Linked DNA regions of Homo sapiens: all the other regions are reported to be linked to region 1. The links are microRNA targets in miRTarBase. Many come from high-throughput screens and were not tested one by one. Region 1 holds a microRNA gene; each other region holds the end of a gene's coding sequence. Distances are between the middles of the regions.
Evidence for each region. Region 1 holds the annotated microRNA hsa-miR-6807-3p (CACUGCAUUCCUGCUUGGCCCAG, at 1,501-1,523, opposite strand). A microRNA usually pairs through its seed, bases 2 to 8, with sites in the 3' UTR of a target mRNA and lowers its output. Matches are read on the target gene's strand: a 7mer-m8 pairs with bases 2 to 8, a 7mer-A1 pairs with bases 2 to 7 and ends in A, and an 8mer does both.

Region 1 (4,129 bases):
CCCACCCAAGGCCCAGCCACAGCTCCAAGCCCTCCCTTTCCCTGCATTACTCCCCTCCGCTGCCTGACCCCACCTGCTCAAACCCCCACTTTCTCTGCAGACCTCCCCTCAACTGGGGGCTCGCTTAGTGTGGCTGCTGGTGGGAAAAAAGCAGAGGCCGCAGCCTCAGCCCTAGCTGATGCTGATGCAGACCTGGAGGAACGGCTTAAGAACCTGCGGAGGGACTGAGTGCCCCTGCCACTCCGAGATAACCAGTGGATGCCCAGGATCTTTTACCACAACCCCTCTGTAATAAAAGAGATTTGACACTAGTCTCCAGGCCCATGTGACTTTTGGCCTGATGTGGGACCAGACTGGGGTCCCTGGGAGGATGGGCATCACTAAGGCAAGAGGCACTTGGTACTAAGCTAAGGGTGGGGGTTTGGGGCAGGGGTGAACAAGCAAAGTCCACCTGGGATTTTCAGGAGCTGGGAGCTTCAGGTGAGCTGTGGGCCCTTCTCCATCACCTCTCCCAAGATACTGGACTGCCCAAACACCCTGGTAGGATCTTGAGAGTCCAGGCCTCATCTGCCAGGCTGTAGTGTCCAACACTGTTTGGTCCAGTGATGGTTTAATGACAACACTCAAGGACAGTCCAGACCAACCAATAGAGGCAAGGGGGTGGCCTTGGGATTCACACAGGCTCGACTGTAGAGTAACTAAATCATAACACAGAGATGAATGATAATGTTAAGTGGACTCAGCAAAGGGAGACAGGGAAAAAAACCACATCTGGAAGGTCTCAGTTCACTGTGGGACCTTCTGAAGATGAGAAACAGCTACAGCACCAAAATTTAGGAAGCATTCAGTAGAGTGGCTGTGCTACACCTGGGGCTAACCCTGCCTACACAGGGATGTAGGTCACACCTACCCAGTATCCCACAGGGTACCCAACAAGCCTCTAGTGTGTACATCCTTTGCCCTGGGTGACCCTCCCCATACCCAGAAAGGGCAAGGAGGCAGTCTTCCCCACTCCCTAGGCATCCATACACATGGGCTTCGATAGGTGGGGGACAAGACCCCCCTCCCTTGTGCCACCAGTGCTTGATAAGGCTGACTAGTAGATACAGTCAATAAACCAGGCCCCAGGACCACAGTCCCCCAACCAGCCAACGCCTGAGGAACTGGTGAAGTTTTTATTAAATCCACAGAAGTAAAAACCATATCGTGAGGAACTGGGGGATGGGGCCACCAGGGAGTGGGAGTCAGGCCACCAGGGGAGTGGGGATGGGGTGACAGGACAGAGAACAGAGCCAGGCTGGGCTGGCCATGGGGGCTCCAGCCTCAGGGGCCATCACCAGGGCCACCAGACAGCTCCTGGGAACTCAGGCCAGCACCAGGCAGGCTCATCGGCGGGGGCTCCACCAGCACAGCAGAGAACTTGGTGTCACCGAAGGCCTCGTTCATGCGCGTCTCGAAGAAGCGCTGCAGGCCGATGATGGACTGCACGTCTGCCTTGTCCTGGGCCAAGCAGGAATGCAGTGGATGAATGGGTCCTAGTTCTTTCCTTCACATCTCCCCCTGCCCACAGCCTCTCCATTCCACTGGCTCACCTCAGTTAACTTGTTGAATTGCTTGAACATGCGGCCCACATCCTGGGCAAACTCCTGTGGGGAGCTGTAGGGAGGTGACAACTTCTCCTGGAGGCGGGCACGGATCAGGGTCAGATCCAGGGTGCCACCGGGCTGGTCCTGCAGGCAGAGATCACACATACACACACAAAGACACACATATACATGCACAGGTTGAGGGCGAGACCCAGCAGCCACCACCCCCTTCCCCTTTCCCATCCTAGGACTCACCAGGGAGAAGGTGGAGTCGGTAGCCAGCTGATGCAGGGGGCGGCAGGGTTCGTGACAGAATAGGGCCAGCAGTACACGCTCACATTTCTACAAACATTGTAAGGGATGTCACAGCTCTGGGCAGCACCTATAAAGCCTCTCTGGGCAACCCCACCTAAGTAACCCCAGCCCTCACCCGCTGGTTGGCTGGTGAGAGCTTGGCCACCACGCCAGTGCTGTCTGCACCATCCAGGCTGAGGCTGCCATCCTCCTCCTTCAGGTCAGGGAGCACATGGCAGAGTGAGCAGCTCCACTCCTCCCTAGGGTGAAGAAAATAAGGGTCTGCACATGATCCTGTCCAGACAGCCCAACACCCAGACTTGACCCCCACCAGCCTCACACTCACCCTGGTACATCCTGCAGGGCCGGCAGGTGACAGTCCAGGTGGAAACAAAACTCACACTGGTTGCACATAACCAGATCGCCTGGCTTCTGGCAGACACGGCAAATGGTGGCACTGTCATCCAGGGTTCCCGGGCCACCACCTGGGGCTGAGGTACCCTCAGGAGCCACCACCTCCAGCCCTGAGCTGGTGCTGCCACTAGGTGAGGCCAGGCGGGGACCCTCAGCACCAGGACCCTCCGCAAGAGCCATAAGCACAGGTTTGGTCTCAGGGCCCTCAGTGGCAGTAGGAGGGGCTCCAATGGCAGCCTCCGTCTCCTCCTCCTGCAAGGTGGTGATGAGGGGTGTTCAACAGGGTCCAGACCTGGACTACAGGCTTCATCCTACAGCTATAGTTCCTTGGGACAGGCTTACCTTGACAATGGCCATGCCAGCCAGGGGTGGGGCACCAGGGGTTCCTGCAGGCGCAGTCCCTGGCTGGCCGGTAGCTGCAGCGGCAGCGCCACGTTCAATAACAATAAGGTTGTAGTCCTCAGTGGTACTGCCTGGGAAGACCTTGAAGACGGGTGGCTGGCTGTCAGCTGTGAGGTCCAGGTCCAGGCGTTCAAGGCTCACTCGTGGCACCTTGCGCATAAGGCCGCTCACCTCGCCCTCACCTGAGCGGGACCTGTAGATGCAGCAACCTGGCATGAGTACACCCCCACCCTCCATCCACCTCACCCCCAGGGGAGGTGCCATACTTACCGTTTCACACCTGACACATGGGGCTCTGCACTTGAGTAGGGATCATCTCCTTAGAAAATGGAGAAAGAAGACTGGCAGGTTGGGGTAGAAACAGCACTGGGGCCCTTCCCCACCCACTAGGCAGACCCACTCACCTGACCCAAAGCCATAGCCTTCCTGCACCTCCATGGGCTGTGAACAAAGCAGAACCCTCTGCCTCAGTGGGACAGGAACCCTACTGGACCCCATTCCCTGCCCACCCCCCCTGCCTGGGTCCTCTCTCCTGCTACTGGACCCCATTCCCTGCCCACCCCTTCCTGGGTCCTCTCTCCTGCTCACCTGGCTGCTGCCAGAGCCCTGCTTGCTCAGGGGCCCTGGGGCTCTTGGAGGGGCCATGGGTGCAGGGCCTGTTGAGTTAGTGCCAGGACGCTCTGCCACAATCTTGCCTGCAAAAAGAAGAGAGAAACGTAAGTAGGTGCAGCACGTGGGGTAATAACAGAGTGAGGTAAAGCTGGGGACCCACCAAAGGCCTCGGCACTCTTGGTCCAGGCATTGAGGTCCCACTGAAACTTCATCTCGCCATGTGGCTCCACGGGATCCACAATCATCTTGAGGGCCCGGTGCAGCTGGAAGTAGATCTGGTTGGGAGTGAAAGGGAGGAAAGAATGAGCACACCAACAACAAATAGGGATTTGAGGTATTGGGAACCACCTGCCTGGAACCCACCAGCCAGGAGCCCACCAGTACACACCAACTTCTTAGAAAGCAAAAGGGCTGTGTTGTTGTCACTCTCCAGAGCCCAAGAGGCAAAGCGCAGAATGTGCTCCTGGTGCTTCTGGATCTTGGTCATGGTCCAGTGCTGCCGCTCCAGGCGCTCCTGCTGCCCCTCAGTCACCTTCTGCAGATAGAAGGTGTATGAGGTAAGCAGAGAAGGCAGAAGAATACTAGGATCACTCCTCACCCCAGACAGCATCATCAATCAGCAGAGGGGGCTCAGGGACCCTTCTCACCGGCACAAGGCTTACCTGGGCATCATTGACCAGCACACGGCCCCGCTTATTCAGCTCCTTCATGATCTGCAGGATGGCCATCTTGACATCCACTTGCACACGCTTCTGTACGTCAGACACCTGGCGGATTCTAGGGGACACAGCAGGTCAGGCTAGGTAGGGTCTTGCTGCCCT
Region 2 (4,000 bases), 2.1 Mb from region 1:
AACCTTATGAATGTAAAGTATGTAGGAAAGCCTTCAGCCAAATTGCATACCTTGATCAACATCAGAGGGTTCATACTGGAGAGAAACCCTATGAATGTATTGAATGTGGGAAGGCCTTTAGCAATAGTTCATCACTTGCACAACATCAGAGAAGTCATACTGGAGAAAAACCCTATATGTGTAAGGAATGTAGGAAAACATTTAGCCAGAATGCAGGCCTTGCTCAACATCAGAGAATTCATACTGGAGAGAAACCTTATGAATGTAATGTTTGTGGGAAAGCATTTAGCTATAGTGGATCTCTTACTCTACATCAGAGAATTCATACTGGAGAAAGACCCTATGAATGTAAAGATTGCAGGAAATCTTTCAGGCAGCGTGCACATCTTGCTCATCATGAGAGAATTCATACTATGGAGTCATTCTTGACTCTTTCCTCTCCCTCACCCTCCACATCAAATCAGTTGCCAAGACCTGTAGGTTTCATCTCCTGAATATTTCTGGAATCCACCTCTTGAATCCATTTCCATCCCATCATCCTTGTCCAATGCACATTAATATATTTGACATGGGATACTCGAGTAGCTTTCTAATTGGTCTCCTTGTACTCACCATTGTCTCTGTCAGATGTCCACATTGCAACCAAATTTGTATTTTTAAAAATATGTTTAATCTCATTTCTCCCTCATTAAAATCCCTCAGTGGCATCCCATGGTTTTTAAGTTAAAGCACACATTCTTCAAAATAGCCTAAAAACCTAGCCTCTAACACCTTGTTCCAGGTTACCTTCCAAAGTTTCTATCTTGTGTCACTATCCATCTCATTCTCTGAATACTTATCCAGGATTAAGATACATATTCCAGGATCAAAAAGACCTGGGTTCCAATCTTTGCACTTCCATTTCCTGCCCTCTAATTTGGGGGCAGCAGTTTGTGCTTTGTAAGCTTCAGTCTTATTTATAGTGTGGGAATAATAATGGTTCTACCTCAGAAGTTAATAGAAGAATGAAATAATGCATGTAAATTGCTCAGCAGCGTGCCTAGCATAAAGTAATTACTCAAACCATAATGTAAAGTAAAAAGATAACCATACTATACATAGAAAGCCAATCATCTCAGCCATGATTATCTCAGAAATAAAAAGAGATGCAGCAGCTCAGGACTGAGAGATTGTGAAGTTTTTTTTTTTTTAGGAATGGTAGGCATTTTTCTAAAAGTAGGTGAGGAGGGTATCTAACAGTAGGATTTACATTAGAGTCCATGATATAGGGTAAGATGGTGGCTTGTATCAGCATTCACTGGATATTTAACAGTTCTAAGATGCTAATGTCTTATTTTAAAAGTCTTTTTTTTTGAGATGGAGTCTTGCTCTGTTGCTCAGGCTTGAGTGCAGTAGTGCAATCTTGGCTCACTGCAACCTCCGCCTCCTGTGTTCAAGTGATTCTCCTGCCTCAGCCTCCTGAGTAGCTGGGATTACAGGCCTGCACCACCACGCCCAGCTAATTTTTGTATTTTTAGTAGAGAGAGGGTTTTGACATGTCGGCCAGGCTTTTCTCTAACTCCTGACGTCCGGTGATCCGCCTGCCTTGGCCTCCCAAAGTGCTGGGATTACATGCGTGAGCTACCGTGCCTGGCCTAAAAAGTCATTTTTAATAAGACAGTTTACTGAGATGTATTCATCATTTACATGTAAACAAAGGCAAAATCGAAATTAAAAAGAAATCTTGAAACAAGTCAGTAACCAATGATGAGTAGAAAATAAAGTATAAGTTTGAACCCCTGTTCTAAATCTGGGTGAATGAATTATATCAAATCTATGTCATTTAAAATAATAAAGGTTGTTAAATTACTAAAATTTCAAAACTAGTGAAGAAAAGAAACCAAAACTGTAGGTCAGTTCTCATAAACTGGCCCACAAACATGTTTGATTCTGTATGCATTAAGTTTAAAATACATATGAATACCTTCAGCAGACCATGTGTTTTCCCTTTCTCCAACATTCAAACCACTCCCTGATTCTTTACATCTGACCTCTTTTAATATTACTTCCTGACCCCAGAATTCTTTTGGCATATAATCAATGCAGTGATCAATTCACATGTGACTATAGATACAAACAGAATGACGAAAGTTTAATGGAGGATGAAAAAGAAGACAAATAAATATTTTATCCTTTATATGGTAAGACAGATTCACTATCATACTGATGTCAGTAGCCCATGAATTAATTTACAGATTCTACCTAACAAAATTCTAATAAATTTTGTAAGGTTTTAACATGTATGTGTGAACATACATATTCATGCTGTTACACATATAAAGAAAATTATAACAAAAGTGACCTATACCATCAGTGGTTTAACAGTTTTGGAAAAATTTATCGTGCTCTATACAACAATTCATTCCATATGTGAAAGTTACTTTCAAGTGCTTTATCTAAATGTGGAACAAACAGTGATTAGAGGAGTCTGTGACACACTCTAATCATGGAATGAGACTGGCCTTCCTAAACATGAGATTCAGAAGCCTCCCCACCTCCTGTCAACAAGTCATAGATTTGACTGTATAAGAACTTTATAAAGCTTTTATATGATCAAAGATAGTAAAAGATACAATATTTTTTAAACCTAAGAATGGGAGAAAATTATTGCAGCACATATAAACTATGGAATTCATATCCTTAACATAAAATTGCTCATAAAAATCCCTTAGGAAATGACGCTTTTCTCCAGCTCATAGTCAAAGGATATGAAGAGGCAACAGGTGACCAATAAATATGTGGTAAGTACTAAATCTCCCTAGGATCAGAAGAAATACAGTTTAGGCCAATGAAATACTATTTTTTTCAATATCAGATTAATAAAACTGCATTGAAAGCATACAAAAAGAGATACTATGCACTAATTTAAAAGAGCATGAGTTTGTACAAACTCTGGTAGGCAATTTGTCAACTTCAGAATTTTAATTGGGAAAAGTAGAATTTTATTTTGAAGTTCAAAAACTCGGCACACAATGTCTTTCCCTCCAGATTCTATTATACACATAGAACAATGTAAATGATTCTTAAAAAAAAAAAAAAGGTGAGGCTTTTGAGTGGATGAAATAATTTTGTAAAAGGCAAAACAGGGAAGAGTGTTCATGAATTGTAGCAGAAGATGCTGCATGTTATATGCGAATGACCGAAGGGTTTTAAAAATGGAATCTAGTCTGCCCAAAGGATCCCTAGAGAAGTTCAGGCTTGGAGTTGGCTTATGTACAGGCTGTGGCTTCTAAGAAGACATGATGAAAAGCCTCTTGAAGCCTTTGTATGTGAAAGTTATGTCAGTAGCCCTTGCCAAAAGCCTCCTCACTCTCCCCTCTCTTGTATAAGTAAATTGAATGGGATCCTTATTTCACACCATTAACAAGTATAAGTTCTAACTGAATAAAAATCTAAATGTAAATTACTAAAGCAAAAGTATTAGAAAAAATATAGTGGGATATGTTAACGACTTTGGTGTCAGACACGTGTTTCTAAAATATTCAAATACCATAAAGGAAAAGATTGATAAAATTGACTGTGTCAAAAAATAGTGTGCTTTGGCTGGGTGCGGTGGTTCACACCTGTAATCCCAGCACTTCGGGAGACTGAGGCAGGTGGATCATGAGGTCATGAGTTCAAAACCAGCCTGGCCAAGATGGTGAAACCCCATCTCTACTAAAAATACAAAAAATTAGCTGGGTGTGGTGGCAGGCATCTGTGATCCCAGCTACTTGAGAGGCTGAGGCAGGAGAATCACTTGAACCATGTGGCAGAGGTTGCAGTGAGCCAAGATCATGCCACTGCACTCCAGCCTGGGCGATAGAGTGAGACTCTGTCTCAAAAAAAAAAAAAAATTATTGTGCTTTTGGCCAGGCATGGTGGCTCACGCCTGTAATCCTAGCACGTTGGGAGGCCGAGGCGGGTGGATCACCTGACCTCAGGAGTTAGAGACCAGCCTGATCAACATGGTGAAACCCTG
Region 3 (4,000 bases), not on the chromosome of region 1:
ACCCCGTCTCTACTAAAAATACAAAAATTAGTCGGGCATGGTTGCACATGGCTGTAGTCCCAGCTACTCGGGAGGCTGAGGCAGGAGAATCGATTGAACCTGGGAAGCAGAGGTTGCAGTGAGCCAAGATCATGCCACTACACTCCAGCCTGGATGACAGAGCGAGCCTCCATCTCAAAAAAAAAAAAAAAAAAAAAGTAACAAAATTATTTCTGGACATCTAATTCCCAGAATTCCCGGTCCCAACACTCTGGGACGCTGAATGCATGTGGGAATGAGGATGGGGAAAGCAGGGAGGTTAGGAAGGAAAGAGACTTGAGAATGTGACGCTGGTTTCAAGAGTCTGCAAGAAATTGTTTCTTCTTTCACAGGAAATCCGACGATGACTCTTGGGTGAGCAACGGCACCTATTTGGAACTTAGAAAAGATCTTGGTTTTTCCAAACTGGACCATCCTGTCTTATGGTGAAAAAGTAAAGAAGAAAGATAACATTAGTGTATTTCTCCTGTGCTTGCCTTCTGAAGTGGCACAAACCTGTGTTTATATATTTAAAAGATACTCTAGGATGATCACTTGTGCTTAGCTTAGCATTGTAACTCTTTAAGTCTATATTTTCCTCAGTGCGTTTCTTTACAATTTCAAATGTTACCCTGATTGTTTATATGAATGTAGAACACCTTGACATTTCTTTTTATATATAAACTATTTAATAAAAATGAAAGATTGAATGTTCATGTGTGGGTTAAAAAAAGAAGCTTTAACACTAATTTTCCAAAGGTTAGGGAAGATTCCAATTAAATTTATGCCTTATAAAATTATGTTGTAGAAAAAAAATCAACCTCTCCCAGGTGCATTAAGAAATAAGAATTCCCAGGGTTACTCACCCATGCGTAAGCTACCCAAGTTTAATTTGGTAGCTGAAATATCTTTTTGCCTCAGACAGCTCTTGAATTGCTCATACAGAACAATTCTGCTGGTGCTGGAGTCTGAAGAATATTTTCATTTGCATTTTAGTGGTTAGGGAGAGGATATAAGATTAATGGAATGTATATTTTTATATAAGACGTATACGGCACCTTCTTGAAAAGGAAGCATTTGAACTTGTTCCTCCCTATAGTTCTATTGCCTTATATGCAAAATTGTACCCTGTTGCTCAGAGAAATTATTCATAAGAGAAAAGAATTCCAATTAATTAAATATCACAATAGCATCCCAGAGAGACAGTAGGAAATTTCTCCTTAGTGAGAGCTGAGTCCTTGAGAAGTTAAGAGACTGTTTCCTGCTTCCCACCCCACCCCGTTTTTTGTCCCTCCGTTTGATCACCTCCCTGTTGAGTATGGAATGTCCCAGTTTAATATAAAACATACAGTTTATTCCACACAGCAGTTTGACTTTGTAAAAGTTTAGCAAAATAACTGATTGTTTTGGATAACTCAACATGTTTTTCTTAAATGCTGTTTTAGTATTTTCTACCTCTTAATAAGCACCATATTTTAGATCTTGTATAAAAAGTTGCCATCTGCCTTATAGACAAATGTAGAGAATTGATGTTCTTGCTTTGTGTTGTGTTCTGGTAAAGCTTTAAGTGAGTGTCTTACCCCTTTCCTATACTTTCTTGTTATCCATATCATTCTTTTGTGAGTTTTGCAGCAGTCTTGAATAATACAGATTATAACTACTGAAAGGGGAACCTTCGTCTTTTTAAATGTGTTATTTCACATTACAATAATATGTGTAGTAGTTGAATTGTGTTATCAAAGCATGTCCAACTTCTGTCCAGATGACATTAAAACCAAAGCCTAATTGTTAAGCCTCTTATTCTAAAGTCCATAGCAATGCTATGGAATATCAAGTATAATGATGTAGTAAAAAGATTTCTCCAGAAAACACTTTGAGATACTTAAAGAAATTCAGAGCATATCGAATGTTATGAATGAAGAGTAAAATAATTACAGGAAAAGAATGCATGATTTTTCATTGTCACACCAAATAACCAGTTGGACAATATTGCATTTTCAAAATGGAGAGTTATTTAAAGTGGATGTGTAGCCTTCTGGAATCTGCACGTGACTGGCATTTTAAAACAACTCATTAAATATTGGATTCATTTTATCGAGATGCCAAGATGAACACAATGTGAATATCATTTCCATTTCTAAGCAGTTGAATGACACAGTCAGATTCTTTGGTGTATGCTTTGTTCTTTCCATCTCAAGCATTTATCCAAATTCTGCTCACAGACATGAGGAAGCAGGCTGTAGATTTAAGGGCACTCAAGGGGAAAACAAATGTAGTTTCCACAGTGTGAGGATAAATGTAGAATCGTGGTAATATTGGCTGTTAAATTGGCCTGCTCCAGAGACTGGCTCAAAAAAGAAAGAAGCAACGAAAACAAAATGCACAGCCTGAATGGACGTAGCACTGTCATGTGGCATTTGGAAAATCTTTAATTATCCTAATGTTATTTCACTTGCCCTTATGCTTTATTTTAGAGTCCCAGGGACAACTGGATGAAACATTACGTCTGTAGTCATCTTATTTGAGATGGGGGTGGGAACGAATTAAAATATGATAGAGAACTATATGCAGATTTTAAAATCTAGTCAGTACTAGCATCTATAAAGGGCTTTTCTGAAATTTAAACAGCTTGGTGATGCATCCTGATATTATAAGCTTAAAACTATCTTGAGGGGGAAATGACTTCTTTTCTCCTTCTGTCCCTTTTCTCAAAAGCATCTTTCCCCCAAATGTATGTCTCTAGGACATTTTATAGTTTTAAGAGGAAGAAAACAGAAACGTGGCATCATTTGGGAAGAACCAAGGTAGAATTTAATTTTCTGGACTTTAAATCTCCTGGTTAAATAATGCTAATCACTGTACCATTTGAGTTACATGTTTTAACCTCTTTTTTTTTTCTAATTATTCCATCCAAAATTTCTGGTGAATTACACAGAAATTTTTGGAAATGGGACTTTGTGCAGGTAACCACCCTGCACTTCAGGTAATGTTCCTGTCACAGCTGTCGACTACCCCACGCTGCAGGAAATCCATTCAGAAATGAGCTAACAGTCTCCAGTGTAGCAGGAGAGCCAGTCACTTCCCTCCCCAGGCCCCAAAGCACCCCAAGGCTGGTATTCCTTGAGTCATAGGTATTAATAATAAAAGCCTCAATGCAGCTTCTCCATGTAGTTCCTCTCCTACAAGCCAGGTGGATTCTGGTCCTAACTAAAGAGATGGGAGTTCACCTGAGGGCAAGAAGTACCCAGGATGCCCAAACAGCCGCACAGGTGTCCTGTGCTTCCTGTGAGACTTCCTGGGGGAAATATACAAACTAATATATTTTTTAATGTTTACGTCATTTACACTGCTGCTTTTCTCATATTCTGCTTTTAATTACTTGTAGTAAATCATTTGTTTGGGCTTCAAGCACTGTCTTCCATCTGCATCTTCCAGATTTATCATGAGTGATCTTGTTCTACTGTTAAAGATGTCAAGCCTAAAAAGTAATAAAGTTTTTATTTGGCTGTTGAACCTTGATGTAGCCCCTACTACATACACTACAAGTTATGCCTTCTGGCTACTACAGAATCTCCGCAGACCTTTTAGTTATGAGTAGAAGCAATAAGAAGGTGTCCTTATGGTCTTAGGAATAATAGTTCCAATGTATTGGCATAATTTGTTTGAATGTCTTTATTTTGATATTAACACCGGCATAAATCTATTTTTGCTACCAGATGATAGCTATTTTCATTTGCTCTATTTTCCTCTGCATTGTACTAATCTGTTACTCAGTGTTAGTCTTCATTTTTCTGTGTTGGAAACCTGCGTCATGTAAATATCTGCAAATCATGACAGTCTAAAGTGCAAACCATTTTCAGAGACTTTGGGGAATGCAGTGATCAGAAGTGGCTAATTTATTTTATTTCTGATTATTTTATCCAGAGGGTACTTTTTTAATGGATATTTGTAAATCTTCCACTTAACCACTGAAAATTATTTT
Region 4 (4,000 bases), not on the chromosome of region 1:
GGGATGGCCTGAGGAGTGCGGCTGGATGTCCATTATAGGATGGGGCTGTGTTCCCTGGCCAGTGTGTGCTGGTGGGGTGGGGGTACAAAGTGGGTGTTCTGGAGTGAACATCTCACCTCCTCAGGCTCTAAACCCTAAGGCCTGTGGCTCAGGGAGTGGCCCGAGGGGTCTACAGAGTCACACTGGTAGCACCCACTAGGCGGGAGGTGGAGTGAGTGCTGTTCTTTCCCGGAAGAGCTGGGTGTGGGGAGCTGAGGGGGCCCAGGCCTCAGCCCTGGTGCTGTCCCTGTGACAGGCCCTCGGGGTGTGTGGGACCATGTCCAGCCCTCTCCAGTGTATCCACAGCCCCGACCTTTGATGAGAACTCAGCTGTCCAGGTGAGTCCAGGCCCCCAGTTGCGGGGAGGTAAGGGGGCAGGTCCTGACCATCAGGGCATGGGAGGCCCTTCTGCTCCCCAAGCAGGAAGAGGCGGCCACTCCTGCCGGCTGCTCCATCCTCCCTCTCACCGCACAGCTGGAGGCTCCTGAGGGCTTCTGGCTGGCCATCAGGAAAACACCCTTTCCGGACCCCGAGCACTGCCCCGCCCAGAACCCCAGTCACTGAGTGCCCAACCCCCAGCTTCCCCCCCAACCCCCCGCCCTGCCCTGTCCCAGGCCTCCCTCTCAGAGCTTGCCCCAGGGACTCTCTGGCCCTCAGGGTTCAATGTATTCTGACCAAGGCCAAGCTTTCCTGGGGCTCAGGGAAAATCACACTTTGCTACCCGAAGCTGTATCCCCTCAGATGCCAGGAAGGCCGTGATCATCTGACTCCACCCTCCTGAGACACATTCTCTCCCTGACTGTCCTGTTCTAAGTCAGCGGAGCACCTTAGGATGGAGGGGTGGAGGCGAGGCCAGATGCAGCCTCTGTGAACAGGTGCCTGGAGGCTGGGAAATGACCCTGAGAGGGCAGGACACAGCAACCGTGGGCTTAAGGTGACCTTGAGAGCAAGCTTGGCCCACTTTACAATTCTGTTCAGAGCCAGCCCCTAACATGGTGGTCATTTATTCATTTGTTCCCTCATTTTAAAAAATGTAAGGCCAGGCATGGTGGCTCACGCCGGTAATCCCAGCACTTTGGGAGGCCGAGGCAGGCAGATCACCTGAGGTCAGGAGTTCGAGACTAGCCTGGCCAACATGGCGAAACCCTGTCTCTACTAAAAATATTTTTTAAAAATTAGCTGAGCATGGTGGCAGGTGCCTGTAATCCCAGCTACTCAGGACGCTTAGGCAGGAGAATCACTTGAACCTGGGAGGCGAAGGTTGCGGTGTGCCGAGATCGTGCCACTGCACTCTAGCCTAGGCAACAGAGCACAACTCTGTCTCAGGAAAAAAAAAAAAAAAAAAAAGGTATTTCTTTGCTGGGCGCAGTGGCTCACACCTGTAATCCCAGCACTTTGGGAGACCGAGGCGAGTGGATCACTTGAGGTCAGGAGTTCAAGACCAGCCTTACCAACATGATGAAACCCCGTATCTACTAAAAAAAAAAAAAAAAAAAAAAAAAATTAGCCAGATGTGGTGGCACACACCTGTAATCCCAGCTACTTGGGAGGCTGAGGAGGAGAATTGCTTGAACCTGGGAGGCGGAGATTGCAGCGAGCCAAGATTGCGCCTCTGCACTCCAGCCTGGGTGACAGAGTGAGACTCCGTCTCAAAAAAAAAAAAAAAAAAGTAGTGGGTGCCTGTGGCCAGGCCACATCCTAGGGTAGGGGCTATGGCTGAGCCCTGCCCTCCTGGAGCTCACAGCCAAGTCCACTTCTTCCATCTGAGGCGGGGAAGCCAGCCCTGTTCCTGAAACCCTGCATCACAAGCCCCTGTGGGAGGCAGTGGGGAGGGGAGGTCCTCCCCCACTCAGACCTGACCCACAGGGACCAGTTTAATGTGTCCTTGCCCCAGTGATGACAGCTGGGGATCTGGGGGTGGGGAGTCACCCAGGACCCGGGCAGTCGCCTTTCCCCAGCTCCTAGGGCTCCCGGCCTTCCCTGCTGAAACAGCAAGACCAGTGGGTTGGCGTGGGAGGCCTGGGCTTCAAACCACCTCTGCTATCACCTGGCTGTGGGTCCCCAGGCAGGACATACACACAGTCCCTCTCTGGCCCTCATCCTCCTCAGCTGCAAAGGAAAAGCCAAGTGAGACGGGCTCTGGGACCATGGTGACCAGGCTCTTCCCCTGCTCCCTGGCCCTCGCCAGCTGCCAGGCTGAAAAGAAGCCTCAGCTCCCACACCGCCCTCCTCACCGCCCTTCCTCGGCAGTCACTTCCACTGGTGGACCACGGGCCCCCAGCCCTGTGTCGGCCTTGTCTGTCTCAGCTCAACCACAGTCTGACACCAGAGCCCACTTCCATCCTCTCTGGTGTGAGGCACAGCGAGGGCAGCATCTGGAGGAGCTCTGCAGCCTCCACACCTACCACGACCTCCCAGGGCTGGGCTCAGGAAAAACCAGCCACTGCTTTACAGGACAGGGGGTTGAAGCTGAGCCCCGCCTCACACCCACCCCCATGCACTCAAAGATTGGATTTTACAGCTACTTGCAATTCAAAATTCAGAAGAATAAAAAATGGGAACATACAGAACTCTAAAAGATAGACATCAGAAATTGTTAAGTTAAGCTTTTTCAAAAAATCAGCAATTCCCCAGCGTAGTCAAGGGTGGACACTGCACGCTCTGGCATGATGGGATGGCGACCGGGCAAGCTTTCTTCCTCGAGATGCTCTGCTGCTTGAGAGCTATTGCTTTGTTAAGATATAAAAAGGGGTTTCTTTTTGTCTTTCTGTAAGGTGGACTTCCAGCTTTTGATTGAAAGTCCTAGGGTGATTCTATTTCTGCTGTGATTTATCTGCTGAAAGCTCAGCTGGGGTTGTGCAAGCTAGGGACCCATTCCTGTGTAATACAATGTCTGCACCAATGCTAATAAAGTCCTATTCTCTTTTATGAGAAAGAAAAAGACACCGTCCTTTAAAGTGCTGCAGTATGGCCAGACGTGGTGGCTCACACCTGCAATCCCAGCACCTTAGGAGGCCGAGGCAGGAGGATCCTTGAGGTCAGGAGTTCGAGACCAGCCTCGCCAACATGGTGAAACCCCATTTCTACTAAAAATACAAAAAATTAGCCAAGTGTGGTGGCATATGCCTGTAATCCCAACTACTCAGAAGGCCGAGGCAGGAGAATTACTTGAACGCAGGAGAATCACTGCAGCCCAGGAGGCAGAGGTTGCAGTGAGCCGAGATTGCACCACTGCACTCCAGCCTGGGTGACAGAGCAAGACTCCATCTCAGTAAATAAATAAATAAATAAAAAGCGCTGCAGTAGCTGTGGCCTCACCCTGAAGTCAGCGGGCCCAGGCCTACCTCACTCTCTCCCTTGGCAGAGAAGCAGACGTCCATAGCTCCTCTCCCTCACAAGCGCTCCCAGCCTGCCCTCCAGCTGCTGCTCTCCCCTCCCAGTCTCTACTCACTGGGATGAGGTTAGGTCATGAGGACACCAAAAACCTAAAAATAAACAAAAAGCCAAACAAGCCTTAGCTTTTCTTAAAGACTGAAATGCCTGGAAGTGTCCCTTTATTTATAAAATAACTTTTGTCATATTTCTTATACATGTTTCTTGTAAGAAATTCAGAAACTACAGACAAAGAGAGTGGAAATTACCCACTGTCAGGCCTCTGAGCCCAAGCTAAGCCATCATATCCCCTGTGCCCTGCACGTATACACCCAGATGGCCTGAAGCAACTGAAGATCCACAAAAGAAGTGAAAATAGCCAGTTCCTGCCTTAACTGATGACATTCCACCATTGTGATTTGTTCCTGCCCCACCCTAACTGATCAATTGACCTTGTGACAATACACCTTCCCCACCCTTGAGAAGGTGCTTTGTAATATTCTCCCCACCCACCCCACGCCCGCACCCCCGCACCCTTAAGAAGGTATTTTGTAATATTCTCTCCGCCATTGAGAATGTGCTTTGTAAG

Region 2: the mRNA of ZNF583 is a reported target of hsa-miR-6807-3p. Seed matches in the 3' UTR shown: 7mer-A1 at 1,388-1,394 and 7mer-m8 at 2,080-2,086.
Region 3: miRTarBase lists OSBPL3 as a target of hsa-miR-6807-3p. Seed matches in the 3' UTR shown: 7mer-m8 at 3,891-3,897.
Region 4: miRTarBase lists SFTPB as a target of hsa-miR-6807-3p. Seed matches in the 3' UTR shown: 7mer-A1 at 3,001-3,007 and 7mer-A1 at 3,338-3,344.

What each region holds. Positions count from the first base shown.
Region 1 is chr19:58,547,748-58,551,876 of GRCh38, reverse strand. MIR6807 (microRNA 6807) reads right to left here and starts at 1,592; the gene lies at 1,501-1,592. It overlaps TRIM28 (tripartite motif containing 28), which reads right to left. Exons shown (of 17, transcript NM_005762.3): 6 at 3,971-4,085; 7 at 3,697-3,843; 8 at 3,469-3,583; 9 at 3,285-3,391; 10 at 3,101-3,137; 11 at 2,967-3,015; 12 at 2,637-2,889; 13 at 2,227-2,546; 14 at 2,017-2,140; 15 at 1,842-1,928; 16 at 1,593-1,730; 17 at 1,162-1,500. The coding sequence ends at 1,324. CHMP2A (charged multivesicular body protein 2A) reads left to right here. Exons shown (of 6, transcript NM_014453.4): 6 at 101-311. The coding sequence ends at 228.
Region 2 is chr19:56,423,875-56,427,874 of GRCh38, forward strand. It overlaps ZNF583 (zinc finger protein 583), which reads left to right. Exons shown (of 5, transcript NM_152478.3): 5 at 1-3,490. The coding sequence ends at 494. Among named protein-coding and RNA genes, the nearest start is that of ZNF583, 22 kb to the left of the region's middle.
Region 3 is chr7:24,796,651-24,800,650 of GRCh38, reverse strand. OSBPL3 (oxysterol binding protein like 3) reads left to right here. Exons shown (of 23, transcript NM_015550.4): 23 at 372-4,000. The coding sequence ends at 468. Among named protein-coding and RNA genes, the nearest start is that of GSDME, 41 kb to the right of the region's middle.
Region 4 is chr2:85,657,831-85,661,830 of GRCh38, reverse strand. SFTPB (surfactant protein B) reads left to right here. Exons shown (of 11, transcript NM_000542.5): 10 at 296-377; 11 at 2,149-4,000. The coding sequence ends at 358. Among named protein-coding and RNA genes, the nearest start is that of SFTPB, 8.4 kb to the left of the region's middle.